Linked DNA regions of Homo sapiens: region 2 is linked to region 1. Evidence: fine-mapped expression QTL. A gene starts in region 1. The other region holds a variant in brackets. All regions are shown on one strand. Distances are from middle to middle.

The links. PIP is the estimated chance that this variant, and not a neighbour inherited with it, causes the effect. A credible set is the group of variants that fine-mapping cannot tell apart.
Region 2: its variant is the best candidate, but not a certain one, in a credible set for the expression of ALDH1A1 in whole blood (TOPMed, PIP 0.61).

Annotation. Positions count from the first base shown.
Region 1 is chr9:72,950,902-72,956,296 of GRCh38, reverse strand. It overlaps ALDH1A1 (aldehyde dehydrogenase 1 family member A1), which reads left to right and starts at 3,244. Exons shown (of 13, transcript NM_000689.5): 1 at 3,244-3,362. The coding sequence starts at 3,297.
Region 2 is chr9:73,246,794-73,252,188 of GRCh38, reverse strand. LOC105376082 (a long non-coding RNA gene) reads left to right here. Exons shown (of 5, transcript XR_929931.2): 2 at 4,380-4,512. Among named protein-coding and RNA genes, the nearest start is that of ANXA1, 98 kb to the right of the region's middle. The variant A/T (reference allele first, on the strand shown) is at 3,038.

The DNA.
Region 1 (5,395 bases):
AAGCACTGATCCATTCATGAGGGTCCTACCCTCATAACCTCATTACCTCCTAATATGATTTGGCTCTGTGTTCCCACCCAAATCTCACCTTGAATTGTAGTTCCCATAATCCCCACATGTCATGGGAGGGATCCGGTGGGATGTACTTTAATCATGGAGGGGGGTTACCGTCATCCTGTTCTCATGATAATAAGTGAATTCTCATGAGATCTGATGGTTTTATAAGGGGGTTTTCCCCCTTTTGCTGAGCACTTCTCCTTGCTGCCACCATGTGAAGAAGGACGTGTTTGCTTCCCCTTCCACTGTGATTGTAAGTTTCCTAAGGCCTCCCCAGCCATGCTGAACTGTGAGTCAATTAAACCTCTTTCCTTTATAAATTACCCAGTCTCAAGTATGTCTTTATTAGTAGCATGGGAATGGACTAATACACCTCCCAAAGGCTCCATCTCCTAATACCATCACATGGGGGGTTAGGATTTCAACATATCCATTGTGACTGGACAAAAAAAATTCAGTCCATTGCAGAAGCTATTTTTAATTCATCATATGACTTTTTTCAACATTTTTTTAAAAATTTTAAGTCCTGGGTGGCAGATTAGGTTCCTTTTATCTTTTCAGGAACTGAGGATTGGACGGAGTTCTGGAGATGTTTGTTGTAAAATGAAAGAGTAGTTTCAAGAATGGTTGAAGTCATAATCTATATGTTTCTTGGTATAATGAAAGCTTTCACAAATGGCTGGAGAAGTCAAATTCAAGAGATGAATAAACTATCCTCTTATGTTTCTTGCTTCTCTCTCCATATGTGTGTGTGCCTGTGTGTGTGTGTGTGTGTGATTTAGTTTGTTCATAAGGAGGAAAAAGAAGATGAAACATCATTTGTCGATTACTCTCAAGTTAAAGGGACAGCTCCTCCTCTGCTGCATAGTCCTGGCATACCATAAAAACGTACAATCCTGGGTCCAGTTCTAAAATGTGCAACCTTGGTCCCTAGGTTCTCACAAAAGCCATTATTTCCTCTGTAAGGAATAGAAGTAGTCTGATGAAATCTTTTCCTCATATGCAGCAATTCCCAGAAATATGCTATTCTACAAAATAAGCTCTCAGGGCAGGATGATGTTTACCTCAAAAATATAGGTCTCAGGCCCTGTGGTTTCTAGGCAGAAAAGATCTGCTTAAGTGAGGTTAGGGCTAAAGAATTATGGATGCATAAATGATACTTAGTAAATATTTGCTGAAATTAAATGGGCAGGTGTGGTAACCTGTCTCCAAAGCAACTCCTTTTGCCTACATTCAGGAATGCCTGGTATAAAGGGACTGTTCTTACATAATTATCCAATAAAATACAATTGAGAATGATCATATAAGAAGTGAGATGACAAGCCAAGTATGTTATGAAGCCTTGAGCTTTCATCGCCTGGACATCAAATAAACCAGTATTTGAATCCACAAACAACTGTGACTCTGGGAGAAGAAAGCAGCAAAACACAGCTGTTTGGGCATGGCCAGAGCGCCACTCTCAAGTTATGTAACAGCTGTTGTGTAATTGTGCATTTAACTCAAAACACATTTTTGAGAGAGAAAACAATTAGACTTTCCAAAAAGAAAGAAACAGAGAAATGTTGAAAGAACACAGAAGTTTCTATCTGGTCATCAAACATAAGACACGGGGGAGTCAAAGGCATTGGGAATGATATTGCCTTAGAATCTAGGGAGTTGGCCCGTGCACCAAATCTGGCCTGCCTTCTGTCTTTTTAAATAAAGTTCTATAGGAAAACAACTACACCCATTAATTTACCTATCATCTACAGTTTCTTTTAAATAGAGTCAAGTAAATTATATCAGAAACCATCCAGCCCAGAGGCTGAAAATATTTACAGAAAAAGTTTTGCAAATTCTTGTCTTAGATGAATAAAAAGTTATGTTTAAATGCCTGTAAGGGTGACTATTCACTGAGAAAACCAAAGCAGTTGATGCTTGAACCCATGTAGGAGTTCTCTTGTGGAGAATAGGGTAGAAATAGTAAACAGAAATAAGAGTCCAGGTTTGGGAGTCAGACTGGCCTGAAATGAAATTCTGGTCCTGCACTAATAGATCTGTGACCATAAGTAAGCTACTCACCCTCTGTATGTCTCTAAAATGGGGATATGAAATGAGGGTAGAAAGGGAAACAAGTGCTGCACCTGATTTGGGCAAACAATTCAGAAATTTTTAGTTTCCCTATGTAAGTCCCATATTCAGGGGAATTGGCAAGTTTCACTAGAAAAAAAAAAATTGGTTGATTCTCCACAATCAGAGCATCCAGAGTATTTTATCTTGTTCCTATTGTAACGTTTGCTAGAGCTACAATACAATAAAGTATTGTACTTAAAATGGGAGTAACACTGTTTAAAAAATTGTCCTTCAGCTAAATATTAATTTAAGAACTTGAATTGTTTGGAAGCCCTGCTTAAATTTAGTCTTTGTACACTGCCTATGTTGATAAATACAGACAACTTCCAAAACCAGGATTACTTTCATTTTAAATGAGTATTAATAGATGATATTGCCATATTTCTAATTGTGGTGATTGTGTGTGACAGTGTGTTCCGAATTCCCTAAAAGTCCTGCTGGCTTTTCTGTTCACATATAGAAAATAAAGATAATTTAGGGCTTCTGAGATCACAGTAGGTCTACTTACCCAGCACTGAAAATACACAAGACTGATACGATATTTTAAAACTAACTTAGGGTAGGGTGTAGATAAAGGGCCTTTCTTCCCCAAACAGCACCTTGATTTTCTGGGAGATGGACTGATTTCCTGAAAGCCTTGTCCTGAAGACACCTGGCCAGCTTCTACTGAGAACAAGTGCCCTTTTAGACTCTTTTCAATCCTCAAATTCTCTGATTCCAAGTCTGTCAGAGAACAGAAAGTTACATAGTAGCATTAAAAAGCATGAGAAGTCAAAAAAATAATAACTGGCCTTAGTGGCCAGAGCAGCTGCTGCATACACTTATCACAGGTTTCGGCTTTGTAAATTAATTCATCTGCAAATAGTGCACTGTCTCCAGGTACAAATTCGATGCTGGAGCACTGGTTTCTTAAGGATTTAAGTTTAAAGTCAAAGGCTTCCTGCCCTAGGTGTTACAAATAAGTAGTGTCGTTTTCTTTTTTTGCTCTGAGTTTGTTCATCCAATCGTATCCGAGTATGCAAATAAACTTTAGCCCGTGCAGATAAAAAAGGAACAAATAAAGCCAAGTGCTCTATCAGAACCAAATTGCTGAGCCAGTCACCTGTGTTCCAGGAGCCGAATCAGAAATGTCATCCTCAGGCACGCCAGACTTACCTGTCCTACTCACCGATTTGAAGATTCAATATACTAAGGTGAGTAAAACTTCTATTTTCTGCTTTGACTCGGGTTTGCAAAAACTGCATTTATGTAAAGCATTAAAGGTCAATTTAAGTAAACTTGTGTAAAGAGCCCTTTGCAAATATAAAAATAAAAGGCATGCAAAATGCAGGTCTCAGTTTAGTGTCCTGATCAAATATGATCTAAATCATATCAGACAATCTTTCATAAATTTATTTCTTAAAATATTTCCAAGCGAAAGGAATTCTCTTCTGTGTGAAAGGATTCTTATACCAGGATTCAGAGGACTTTACTAAGCACTTCTATTAACTTCACTATAGCCGGCATGTATGATAAGAGAGCAAAATACTCACTAGAGAAGCTTACTGGAAAGAACCAAACGAGTAGGAACAATAGAAAGCAAACAAGGAGAAAGAGAGCATACTGAAATAACATAACTTTCCAATATGTTTAATAAAATGAGTGTTAAAATAGGGGGACTTAAGTCTGATAATTGGATTCGAAAATCTTCAGATGGACTTGCATTATTTTGCATATTTTGGTGGGAGGAAGAAAAGCATTATTTCTTCAGCCAAGTTTGTTGCCATTGGAGCAGATGTGTAATTGTTAACTGATAAATATTTAGAGAAACAAGAGCAGGAGCTAGATCCAGACTTTAAAATCCGCAGCTGGGGGGAACTAGGAAATGGATCCTGCTTGAGTCGTTCTGAGAGTAACTCTGAACTTTGCCTGTTTCACACTGCTTTCCTGTCAGATCCTAGAACTCCAAAACAAACAAATGAATAAAACACAATCTAACCAAAATTACTTGAAGTTATCTTTATGGTGTGATGCAGAAAGTATGGTAAGAAATTAACTCTTGCAAATCAAGAGAGAGCCATTTTGCTGTCTGAATTAGCCAACAGAAAAACAAAGGGCATTATAATTTAATGATAAAGTAAAAGTCCCCACTGTTATATATTTATTTCCTCACTTGTAACCATGGATGGCTTTGAAATCCCAAGGTCTGTTGCATTTTCATTTTCATAAAGCACAACAAATGAGGAAGTTGCTCAGCTGATTGGCTCTTTTCCTCAGGAAAGTAGCAGCAGAGATCAGATTGTGCCTTTAACATGGTTGACCAGCAGCTATGAAGTGTATTTTAAGGTATTGTTATCACGAGGTTTTGTTAAAGAGGAAAGATTTTTTCCATTTAGTTTTACTACAAATGGTAGCATGAAAAATGCAGTAAATCCATACCGTCAAACAATTTACATTTGGCAAAGGTATGTCCAAAAGGTTGCAAGAGTCCAGTCTCCCTCATTTTCTTATTCCAAGTTTGTCATTCACAAGAAATTTCAATTGAAAGTGGGTACATTTAAAAATACATTTCATGAAGCTCAAAATTGTCGACAATGCTCAGATTATTGTATTACTATTATTAATGGGATTTTTTTTTTAATAATACTACCTAGGAAGATATTTTGGTAGTCTGGATGCCCCTGTCTCCCCACTCCTTTGGCTTTGCAGAAGTTTGCAAAGTCTTCCTTGTGTGTGTATTTCAAGGAAGCTCTAATGTAAATAACCTTCCTGCTAAATTAAGCTTCACTTAGTAGTCATTAACTAAGCATGTAAGAAGCGGTACTAGACAAATGAGATGGTCCTAAAAATCTAACATACAAGCACAGACCTAATGAACCCTTAACACAGAGAGATGATTTTGAGATTGAAACCTATTCACTTCGAAGTCACTGTGCAACAACTCCCCTCTAGGGAAAGTGACTGACCTAAGTGTCCAAAAGAAGGCAAGACTCAAAGAGCAGGCGTTTTGCTCTGTGTTTAAGAACTTTTCTGGGTAAAAATACTCCAAACAAGTCAGTGAATTTTGATTTCTCGTGCATCTTCTATATAAATCTGTTCTGCTCAGATAGCATTTTATTGTTTAATTTATTGGTTACAGCGTTTTCACACTTGGGAGGACGCCAGTTATGTATGTAATTAAATCTAAATGGGTGAACTTTTTCAAATGCCTTCGCATTTTTTGTTTACTATGTCCCAGTGAAGAATT
Region 2 (5,395 bases), 300 kb before region 1:
TTTTCTCCGAAGTCTACTTCATATAATATCAATATAGTCACTCTCTCTTTCCTTTTATTAAAATTTTTGTAAGATATATTTTCAATCCTTTTACTTTCAACAGCTTATATTGTTGTATTTCAAGTTAATTTCTTATGGGCAACATTTAGTTAGGTTGTATTTGTAAATACCCTCTGTTAATCTCTGTCTTTTGATTGCTATGTTTATACCATTTAAATTTAATATAATTACTGATACCTTAGAGTTAAATCAGCTATTTTATTTTTGTTTTCTGTTTGTTCTCTCTGCTTTTCATTTATGTCTTCTTTTTCCTCCCTTTCTGTGGAAACCCACAACACATATAAAACATATAAATCATCATATAAAACATTTTTTACAATTTCCCTTTTCTTTATCTATAGTGTTTTGACTGTGTCTCTTTGTATAGCTGTCTTAGTGGTTGCACTAGTTATTATGTTGTTACATATCTGTAACTTACCACAGTCTACTCGTGTTCTCATTTTACCAGTCCTAGTGAAGTATAGAAAGATTACTTCCCTTTACATCTCTTTATTCTCCCCCATTTATAATTGTCTTAGATATTTCTTCTACAAATATTTAGAACAACATTGGTGTTTTAATTTTTGCTTCAACCATCAAGCATAATTTAGAACACTCAAGAGAAGAGCCTATTGTATTTACCCATATTTTTTGTTTACTGTATTGGTCTTTCTTCCTGATGTCACAAGCTTTATTCTTTTGTTATTTCCTATACTTTTAGAAATTTTATTTAGCCATTCCTGTAGGGTAAATCTCCTGGCAACATATTTTCTTATGTTTCCTTCATCTAGGAATGTGTTGATTTCTCCTTCATTTCTGAAGGATATTTTCTCAAGATATAGAATCTCAATTTTTATTTTTTATGTTGGGATGCCTGTGTTTATATTATTGAGTTTTAAGAGTTCTTTTTATATGCTGGTTACACATCCTCTGTCAGGTATAAGTATATCAAATATTTTCTCATAATCTATGACTTGCTTTTTAAAACAGTCTTACTGGTGATTTTTTGAAGAACAAAGTATTTTGCTTTTGATAAAGTGCTTTTTTTTTATTATTTGGGCTTTCTGTTCAAGGCTAATATATTATTACCACTCTAAGCCCATGAAGATTTTTTTCTCGAATATTTTAAACTTTCCTTTAGGTTTAGATATCATATACCTCATGTATATGAGATGTTTTTTTTAGTGTATGAGTCAAATTGAGGTTGAGGTTCTATATTTTCTTTATTCCTATCTACTTGATTCATCACCATTTGCTAAAGTTGTTTCCCTTTTTCTGTTGAATTGTTTTAGAGCCCATGACAAAAAATAATTTGACTTTGTATGTGTGAGTCTATATCAGGATCCACAATTGTTTTCAATTGATCTATTCATCTATCATATTGCTAGTGTCATACTCTTGATTTCCATAGCTGTATAGTATGTATGGCAGTCAGGTAGGGTAAGTCCTCCAACTGTTCTAAGACATTTTCATTTTGATATATATTTGAACACAGCAAATTGCCTTTTTTTAAAGCCAAATATAATTTTGGTTAGGATTGTGTTGAATATAAAGATAGATTTGTGGCGAATTTACATTTTAATAACTTTAACAATACTGAGCCTTATAATCCATAAATATAGCATCTCTTTTATTTTCTTTCCAATTGCTTATTGTTGTTGGTTAGAAATACAATTTATCTTTGTATATTTTCTTTGCATCCTGTGACATTGCAAAGTTCACTTTTTTATTCTTTATGACTTTTTTTTTACAAAAAACAATAGAAAACAATTTTAATTATGCACATATACATGGAGTCCCACAAAGACATGAGCTCCCTCCTTATAACTTTCTAGGCATATGTTATATTATCTTCAAATAGAGATTTTATTATTTATTCTTTTCTAAATGTATGCCTTTTTTTTTTTTTTTTTACTTACTACATTAAGAGCTCCAGTACAATGTTGACTAGAAGTGGTAGAAATGCACATCTTTATCTTTTCCTTATTTTGGGATATAATGCTCATTCCTTCTTCATGAGTAAAATATATTTAATGTTGATTTCTCACAGACTTTATTTGCCTAGAAGAAAAAAGTTCTCTTTTGTCCCCAGTTTGTGGAGCGTTTTTATTATGAACAGGTGCTGAATTTTTAAGTGCTTTTCCAGAATCTACTTAATTAAATATAATTTTTCTTCTTTAATGTGTTAATGTGTGAGTTCCACTGTGATTTCCATATAATAAACCAACTTGCCATTCCTGGGATTGCCACTGCCACATGGTCAGGATTATTTAACATCTCTAGATATTGCCAAATCCAATTTGACAATGTTTGGTTATGGGCTTTTGTGTCTATGCTCACAATGAATATTAGTCTTTAATTTTCTTTGCATATAATATCCTTTCCTAGATTTGGTGTCAGAGTTATATTGGCCTCATGAAATGACTTGGAAAGTATCTTCATTCCACTATTCCATGAAAGAGTTTGTGTGATATTGGCAATTTTAGTTTATTAAATGTTTGATAAAATTTCTGATGAGCTACTTTGGATATGAATATTTTTATGGGAATTTATTTAATTACAAATTCTATTTAATCAATAGATGTAAGGCTACTTAAAATTTCTATGTTTGTGGTGAAAGAACATACTGTTTATGATGGTCCCCCATTTATTTCATTAAAAGGTAATTTATGTTCCTTGAAATTTACAATTTTAAGTGTAAAATTTTGGAATTTGACAAACTTCTGTAGTCATATAAACACCATCAAAATCAAGATACAGAGCAAGGGTCATCAAACTATGACTGTGGGCCAAATATTGTCTAAGGGCTGTTTTTGTATGGTCACTCAGCTAAGAATTTTTTTATTTTAATAAAGGGTTGTGAAATAAAAACAAATAAACAAAAGCAAGCAAGAGTATGTAATACAAACTTATATGGCCCTAAAAATATTTATTATCATGTCCGTTACAAGGAAATGTCAGCTGCCACTATAAATTTTTAGCCTTGTGATTGCTTTGA[A/T]GCTCAAGAAATGAATTTTTAAATGCTACATATATGCTATAGTTTAAGAGTCAAAATTCATTTGTTCTACATCGTTCTTGTGAGGAGTAAAAAGAATAACTGCCTCCTGGGCTTATAAAGTGTTTCCCAGGAAAGCAGGAAGTTAGGATGGAGAGTTTTTGGTTTTTCAGTCAACTAAGATGGGATTAAATCATTTACTGAGTATGTTTCTTTAGACAAATTGTTTTACCTCTCTGTGCCTTATCTTCTTTGTCAGTATAATAGAAACAAAAATTCCAAACTAAATAGGTTGTTTTGAGATTTAGATGAGATAATATATACAAAGATGTACCTCAATGAAACCTATTTGTCAGATGTTTGCAATTCCCTCTCTACTTCATCACAACTACTAAACAAGGAGTTTACACACACACAGACACACACACACACACACACACATCGTTTTGTAAAAAGGGAGCTGGTGGTTTGAGTTTTTTGTTAGTTTGCTTGTTGAGATGTTTGTTTGCTTTGTTGCCCAGGCCTAGTGCAGTGGTGCCATCTCATTGCAACCTCCTCCTCCTGGGCTCGAGTAATCCTCCCACCTCAGCCTCTAGAGTAGCTGGATCTACAGGCACATGCCACCACACCCGGCAAATTTTTTGTGTCTTCTCTAGAGATGGGGTTTCACCATGTTGCCCAGGCTGGTCTCAAACTCCTGGGCTCAAGGGATCTGCCCACCTCGGCCTCCCAAAGTGCTGGGATTACAGGTGTGAGCCTGCCACCACACCGAGCCTGCTGGTTTTAATGCACAGCTCTACCCTGTGAAACTGGAAATGTATGGCTTTGTGCCAAATTTTCTAATTTGCACAAAAAATATATGTTTAGCTTTTCAGAAACTCTGTCAGGATTCATTAGCTTTCTGCAGAAAAATAGACCTTTGGAGACTAAAAGAAAAGAAAAATAAAGTTTTATGAGACAATCTATTAGTCAAGGTATTGGAGAAAACAGAGAAGATTTTGGAATTATCTTTAGCTGTCATTTACATTTTCCTGAGCCTTAAATCTGAGTTTCTCTAATAATCATAAGCCCGATATATTTTGTTTTAAAAATAAAACAAGAAAAAACTCAAATTATACCAAATCTGTGCTCACAGCCAGGATATATCCTTTTGGACTATAGTCTGTTTTAACTCACTGATGCAGAATGTTTTGGCACAGGAAATATTTAATCTAAAAAGTAGGGCCTTTCACAAGAACGCCTCTTGTAAACAGGGAGACCAACTGGGCATTAATGTGAATATTGTTGTTGGCAAGATCTTTTGACCTGATGGATAGAGGTGACATATACATTCTGTGTCTTTCAGCAGGAACACCCCTTGGAGCAATAACACCCAAATACCTGAAATGTGAAGATGACAAGCATGAGTATCCTCTCCTTTTGTGCCTGAATTTCCTGCTTTAATCAGAAAAAAATACTTTTAAAAAGTGCAGGCAATGGTGAGGTTAATTTCTTGTTTAAAATATTTTAATTATCACACTGCAATGATGGAAATAAATCTGTTCACTCTAGCAAGTATATAACATTATCACAAAAAGCCAAAGGAAAAGGAAATGCGTAAGAGAGAAAGGGGATGAGAGAGAAGCAGGACACAAAAATTACAGTGCAGGGAACAAGAGCAAAACGAAAAAATACCACACTAGCAGTTAAACTGACCCCAGAGGTAGATATTCACATTCACTCTGAGTTAACTGTTTTCTGTCTTCAGAGTTCACAGTGCAAGATCATGCTAAAAGACTAACCAAGAAGGAGTGGAGGGAAGATTTGAAGTCCAGGTGACTTGAGACCAAGTTCTGATTGGAGAACTTAGGTGTCCGTAGCCAAGTTATTTAAACTTTTCTGCTCCTCAGTTCCAACTTTCTCAAAATGAGTAGATAACGATTACTGTATCTCACCTGAATATTATGAAAAGTCTGTACGATAAAATATGATGATGGTTATACAATGATAATGTAAACTTCTTAATAATACAAATGTTAGTAACTGTTATTTACATGTATTCAATAGTCAACTTTGGAGTAATCACCCTATTGATTCAGCACACACTGAATTCCACAACAAAGCAAATTATTTACACTCTGCATGCCCTAATTTTTAAATAAAATATTGTGGGTTTTTGTATTATTACAACTTTTCACAATAAAATTTCTGCTTCACATAATTTATTGATCAAAGTTCTAACTCACCTGCAATTCAGCATATTCTTCTATCCCTTGCTAACTCCTAGAGTTTGACATATTTTACAGGATTAATTCTTCTCATAGGAATACTACAAAAGAGCTACCTAATAAGATGTTTTAAAAATTCTAATTTGAAGCTAAA